Homo sapiens: one gene and its partner. The protein of the gene in region 2 purifies or fractionates together with the protein of the main gene of each other region. This does not show direct contact. Each region holds a gene or a part of one and is shown on either strand. Other genes may lie near its edges.

Region 1 (3,547 bases), on a different chromosome or scaffold from region 2:
GACAGTGTGAATGCTCCCATTGTTTCCTCAGCCAAGATGTTCCGAAGGGTGCTCACCATCGTGCAGGCCCACTGTAAGCTGGGTTTGACTGCGACCCTCGTCCGCGAAGATGACAAAATTGTGGATTTAAATTTTCTGATTGGGCCTAAGCTCTACGAAGCCAACTGGATGGAGCTGCAGAATAATGGCTACATCGCCAAAGTCCAGTGTGCTGAGGTAGCTGGGCCTGGGCTGGGGGCGTCTGGGAAAGGGCCTCCTCCTATGGGCAGGGGAGTGATCAGATCGATTCCTCATGGGCAGACACAGGTCAGGACTTAGGCTCACCTGCTACCACTTCATACAGGATCCTCAGTCACCCTGTGGTTGGGTGGTACTAGACCCACTTGCTGCATATCTTCTGTCTTGTCACATATCTCACATACCCCTGAATTTGTGATGATTCTTTTTCCTAGCCATGGGGTTTACCAGTCATGGATTTCTGTGGGTGAGGATTAGCATTCAGGGCACAGGGATGAATGAAGGCCCCTGATACCACAGTGCTGCCTGGGAGCCTGGCAGCAAAGGGCTTTGCTCTGATAGCCCCAAGCGCCTAACTGATATGCTCCCAGCCCTGCTGGGAAGTGTGTGAAGAGGTGGCGGTACTCAGTAGCAGTGCTGACTCGTGTGTGGAAGTGTGGCTTAAATGGAAGAATTGCTGACACTACCAATTGAGAATCTGGTTTCGCACACTTGCAGCTGGTGTGAAAATAACTCCCTGGATGTGATTGCATTTAAAAATCTTTTAAGTGGTTAACATGTGAAAACGTCCAGTTCAATAGGAGGTATTAGGTTGGGTTTAGTTTTGTGCATGCATTTATTTTCAGTTGTACTGATTTCTAATTCACATAGCATTTTTTTTTTTTTAAAACAGGGTCTCACTCTGTCACCCAGGCTGGAGTGCAGTGGCGTGATCTTGGCTCACTGCAACCTCCGCCTCCTGGGCAAGTGATTCTCCTGCCTTAGCCTCCTGCGTAGCTGGAATTACAGACATGCACTACCACACCCAGCTAATTTTTGTATTTTTAGTAGAGACTGGGTTTCACTGTGTTGGCCAGGCTGGTCTTGAACTCCTGGCCTCAAGTGATCTGCCTGCCTCAGCCTCCCAAACTGCTGGCATTACAGGCATGAGCCACTGCACCTGACTGGTTTTGTTTTAAAGCTAATTCTGCTAGAGAAAGGTCTTCAAAAGTTTTAAATTGTGTGGTGTTTAAACTTGTAAAATGACCCCTGGTTCTTACTGTATTACAGGTCTGGTGCCCTATGTCTCCTGAATTTTACCGGGAATATGTGGCAATCAAAACCAAGAAACGAATCTTGCTGTACACCATGAACCCCAACAAATTTAGAGCTTGCCAGTTTCTGATCAAGTTTCATGAAAGGAGGAATGACAAGATTATTGTCTTTGCTGACAATGTGTTTGCCCTAAAGGAATATGCCATTCGACTGAACAAGTAAGAATTGAAAACTTGGAGCTTCCTCCAGGCCAGTTTCTCTTCCCCATTGAGAGTGCAGAAGGTGGCTGTTGTTTTGTTTTTTTGTTTTTCTCTCAGGAACTTCTTGGGCTCCAAAGATCTTGTTCTGTGGCCCTGGTCTCAGAAACCAGGGAAGACCTGAAGTAGGTGGTTGGAGTCAGAGGTTAGAGCATAGAGAAAAGGGGGGCTAGTCACCTTGAGCCCAAAGAACAGGGAGCAGAGACTTGGACTGAGCTGGGTGGGGCCCCATGGAAGATCTGGGCTCCAAAGGTGGGTGGGAGTTGGCATTTGGAGCTTTGGGCTGTGTGAGCTCTGTGGGTGGAGAGGAGGCCAGACTGGATGGCCTAGGGGCTGGGAAGGCAAGATGGGCTGGGCTGGCATCCCAAGTACGGACTGGCATCTGGAAGGAGCTTAGAAATGCCCACGCAGTATCCTCATCAACCCATGGCTCCACCCAAATATTTGTGCTTAAAACCTGGCTTTTGTAAAGCTCTGCCAAGTAAGGAGGAAGAGGTCTGCGCTTGCTCCTACAGTGACACAGGACTTCAGGTGCTGTAAGTGTTGCAGAAGGCCAGGCCCTCTATGGAGACAGGTCAAGCTATGTGCTATGGGTACTATACATAGGTTTTACTTAATCCTCACTTCAGCCATATAAAATGTTGTTCCCATTTTATAGAAGGGAAGACAAACTCATAGAAAGATTAAATTTCTTAAGTTTCTAAAATTATACCTTTATTTAATTTAGAAAGACTTTTTAATCCAAGTCAACATTTAGATTATTGTGAAAAACAGCAATTCCCTGCTTCTATTTTCCCACCCACAATTCTATTCCTTGAAGACAGCCGCTTTTGACTCTTTTTTGTTGTTTACCTTCATATTTCTTTCTTTCTTCCTTTTTTCTTTTTTTTTTTTTGGAGTTAGGGTGTCACTGTGTCACCCAGTCTGTAGTGCAGTGGTGTAATCACGGCTCACGGCAGCCTTGACCCCCTGGGCTCAATCAATCCTTCCACCTCAGCCTCCCGAGTAGCTGGGTCTACAGGCACGCACCACCACACCCAGCTAATTTTTGTTTTTTGTAGAGATGGGGTTTTGCTATGTTGCCCAGGCTGGTCTCAAACTCCTGAGCTCAAGCAGTTCCTCCTGCCTTGGCCTCCCAAAGTGCTGGGATTAGAGTCATGAGCCACCACACCTGGCCAGCCTTCATCTTTCTAAGCAATAGCTTATGTAGTAATTTCTTGATGATCAGTTATAGAAATTGCCTATTAACTTCCTACTGTAGGAGTTGAGGGTTTAGCTTTCTTACATACACCACTCTCCCCACTCCTGTTTTCTCTCCTACCATTCTCCCAATATGGGAATAGCACAAGTTGGGGGTTACTTTAATATTCAGTTACATTATTTTGACTGTGTAAGTATGTTCAGGCAGAGCTGTAGAGTACTATTACATTTTCCTTTTTTTTTTGAGACGGAGTCTTGCTCTGTTGCCAGGCTGGAGTGCAGTGGCGCTATCTCAGCTCACTGCAACCTCTGCCTTGTGGGTTCAAGTGATTCTCCTGCCTCAGCCTCCTGAGTAGCTGGGACTACAGGCACCCGCCACCACAGCCTGGATAATTTTTGTATTTTTGGTAGAGATAGGGTTTCACCATATTGGCCAGGATGGTCTCGATCTCTTGACCTCGTGATCTGCCTGCCTCGGCCTTCCAAAGTGCTGGGATTACAGGTGTGAGCCACCATGCCCGGCCTTACATTTTCTTTTTTGTAAATGTTTTTTTGCCTTGGAGTTAATAATTGCCTTGTCATTGTTTTTGCTTGGTTTTCTGTGCATTGAATAATTATTCCCCTCCAAAGTCTTCACATAACCATAAACTCAGTAGGGTCAGGTAATTTCTCAGTTCTGTTTTTCTGTTTCCCCAGTGGGATCCCCACCAGCACTCCATTCGCTTACTCTGTTCTGGCCTGCTTGCTGTCTAGGACTAGAGACACCACCAGCTGTTACCATGGGGTTTCCCTTGGACACTACCCCATGACTTCCCTGG
Region 2 (3,547 bases):
AGTAGAAAAACGTCAATTTCTTGTAGAGATGTTTCTCAATCTCTCATCTCAGCTCTTTAAGGACAGCAAAGAGGGATCCAGATAGGAAGAGAGATGCAAAGAAGAGAGAAGAGGGCTGGGCGCACCGGGCGCGGTGGCTCATGCCTGTAATCCCAGCACTCTGGGAAGCTGAGGCAGGCGGATCACGAGGTCAGGAGTTTGAGACCAGCCTGGCCAAGATGGTGAAACCCCGTCTCTACTGAAAATACAAAAATTAGGTGGGCGTGGTTGTGTGCGCCTGTAATCCCAGCTATTCGGGAGGCTGAGGCAGGAGAATCACTTGAACCTGGGAGGCAGAGGTTGCAGTGAGCAGAGATCACACCACTGCACTCCAGCCTGGGTGACAGAATGAGACTCTGTCTCAAAAAAAAAAAGAAGAGAGAAGAGGACAATGGAGAGCCTAAGATGGAACTAAAATATCACCCTGAAAAAGAAAACTCACGGTAAGTATGAAAACACCAACAAAGAATTCCGTTAAATCGGGAGGGAGGAAGGGAAGGTCGGGTAGAGACACTTTTAAACACATGCAGAACTTGATGAGGTAGTCTTGAAAACGCAAGCCTTCTGGGAAGAAGGAGAAAAAGAATGAAAGGGTACCCTCTGTTGGCCGGGCGCGGTGGCTCACGCCTGTAATCCTAGCACTTTGGGAGGCCAAGGCGGGCGGATCACGAGGTCAAGAGATGGAGAACAGCCTTGCCAACATGATGAAACCCAGTCTCTACTAAAAATACAAAAATTAGTTGGGTGTGGTGGCGCGTGCCTGTAGTCCCAGCTACTCAGGAAGCTGAGGCAGGAGAATTGCTTGAACCCGGGAGGCAGAGGTAGCAGTGAGCAGAGGTTGCAGTGAGCCAAGATTGCGCCACTGCACTCCAGCCTGGAGACAGAGCAAGACTCCGTCTAAAACAAAACAAAACAAAACAAAACCAAAGAGAAAGGGTACCCTCTGAAAACTGTGCTGTGAAAGACACAAAGAAAATGTAAGAGCCAAAGGACATAGAACCACCTCCCCGACAAAAAAGCCTTCTAGTAGAATTAGAAGCCATACTTGACTACACCTAGAAAAGAATAGGAACTACTCTTGAACTAGGAATCTCAAAAATCATCCTGAATGACTGTCACTCCTGCTCACGAAATGCAAACTTCGAGAAAAAAAAAAGATTGAAAAGAATGAAAGAACCTCAGGATCCTGTGGGCTAATATCAAAATGTCTAACTCACATACAATTGAAGTGAAATTGAACTCACATACAGAAGAAGTGAAAGAGAATGGAACAGAAGAAATATTTTTAAAACTAATAGCTCCAAATTTCCCAAATTGGCCGACAGACATAAATTTACAGATTTAAGAAGCTCTGCAAATCTCAAGAATAAATCTCCGGATAAATACAAATAAAATGACACCTAGATACACCACAGACAAACTGCTAAAAAACAAAAATAAAGAGAAAATCTTGAAAGCAGGTAGAGAATGATAACACATTACATACAGAGTAATGAATGATGCAAATGATGGCTCCATTTTACAATAAAGGTAAGAAACATATCTAGAAATCAATTTAACAAAATATGTATAAGACTTCTGAACTGAAAACCATAAAACAGAACTAAAAGAATTTTTTTTTTTTGAGACAGAGTTTCACTCTTGTTGCCCAGGCTGGAGTGCAATGGCACCATCTCGGCTCACTGCAACCTCTGCCTCCCAGGTTCAAGTGATTCTCCTGCCTCAGCCTCCAGAGTAGCTGGGATTACAGGCATGCGCCACCATGCCTGGCAAATTTTGTATTTTTCGTAGAGACAGGGTTTCTCCATGTTGGTCAGGCTGGTCTCAAACTCCTGACCTCAGGTGATCCACCCGGCTCAGCCTCCCAAATTGCTGGGATTACAGGTGTGAGCCGCCACACCTGGCCCAAAATTTTTATTTTTATTATTATTATTTTTTGAGACAGAGTTTTGCTCTTGTTGCCCAGGCTGGAGTGCAATGGCACTATCTCAGCTCACTGCAACCTCCACCTCCTGAGCAAGTTCAAGCAGTTCTCCTGCCTCAGCCTCCCAAGTAGCTGAGACTACAGGCACCTGCCACCACACCTGGCTAATTTTTGTATTTTTAGTAGAGACGGGGTTTCACCATGTTGGCCAGGCTGGTCTCGAACTCCTGACCTCAGCTGATCTGCCCGCTGCAGACTCCCAAAGTGCTGGGATTACAGGCATAAGCCACTGCACCCGGCCTAAAAAGAAATTTTAAAAGGCTTAAATAAGAAGGAAAATGCACCAAGTTCATATATTTGAAGACTCAATACTGTTTAGGTGTCATTTCTTTCCAAATTGATCCATAGATTCAATGCAATCCCAATCACAACTTTACCAGACTTTTCTGTAAAACTGGTAAAGATAATTCTGATATTTATATGGAAATGCAGAGGATTTAGAATATTCACATCAAGCTTGAAAACAACAAAATTGGAAGACCTACAACTACATGACTTCAAGACTTACTAAAAAGCTACAGTAATTAAAAGTGTGGTACTAACACAAGGATTGAACAATGGAACAGAAAAGGGAGTGCAGACATCAATTACCATTTGTACAGTCATCTTAATTTCCAAAACGCAATACAATAGCATTTTCAACAAATGGTGCTGGAATGACTGGATATCTATATGGAAAAGAAATTAATATTTAATTATATCTCACACCATTCACCTAAACTAGAAATGGGTGATAGGCTTAAACATAAAACTAAAACTATAAAATTTATAGGCCGGGCACGGTGGCTCACGCCTATAATCCCAGCATGTTGGGAGACCGAGGCGGGTGGATCACAAGGTCAAGAGTTCAAGACCAACCTGGCCAACCTGGTGAAACCCTGTCTCTAATAAAAATACAAAAATTAGTTGGGCATGGTGGCGCATGTCTGTAATCCCAGCTACTCGGGAGGCTGGGGCAGGAGAATCGCTTGAACCTGGGAGGCAGAGGTTGCAGTGAGCGGAGATCGCCATCACCGCACTCCAGCCTGGACGACAGAGCAAGACTCTGTCTCAAAAAAAAAAAAAACTTACAGAAGAAAACATGAAAGATTATCTTCACAGCCTGAAGGTAGCCAAGATTTCCTAGGACTCAGAAAGCAGTAACTATAAAAGAAAATATAAGAGAAAACTGATTACATCAAAATGTAAAACTTCTGTTCATCAGACAACTCTAAGAAAATGAATAGGCAACCAGACAGAGGACAGGTAACCAGGATATAAAGGTTATATAAATAACTGCTACAACTCAATAATAAAAAGACACACAACCCAATGTAAAATGGGCAAAAGATTTGAGCAGGCACTTCACAAAGGAAGATGCACATTGTCATGGGCACAGGAAAAAGTGCTAAACACCATTAGTGACTGAGGACTAAAATTAAGACCATGACACACCACACCCATCAGAATAACTCAAAAGACTGACAACACCAAATGCTGGCAAGGATGTAAAGCAACTGGAACTCTCATACACTGTTGGCAGGA

What was found.
Region 1: the proteins of RAD52 (region 2) and ERCC3 purify together in Homo sapiens (affinity purification with western blotting; one study listed by BioGRID). This does not show direct contact.

What each region holds. Positions count from the first base shown.
Region 1 is NC_000002.12:127,277,116-127,280,662, reverse strand, and holds part of ERCC3 (general transcription and DNA repair factor IIH helicase/translocase subunit XPB), read left to right. Parts: intron 1-31; coding exon 32-216; intron 217-1,287; coding exon 1,288-1,490; intron 1,491-3,547. UniProt on the Homo sapiens protein: ATP-dependent 3'-5' DNA helicase/translocase. Binds dsDNA rather than ssDNA, unzipping it in a translocase rather than classical helicase activity. Component of the general transcription and DNA repair factor IIH (TFIIH) core complex.
Region 2 is NC_000012.12:939,673-943,219, forward strand, and holds part of RAD52 (DNA repair protein RAD52 homolog), read right to left. Parts: intron 1-3,547. UniProt on the Homo sapiens protein: Involved in double-stranded break repair. Plays a central role in genetic recombination and DNA repair by promoting the annealing of complementary single-stranded DNA and by stimulation of the RAD51 recombinase.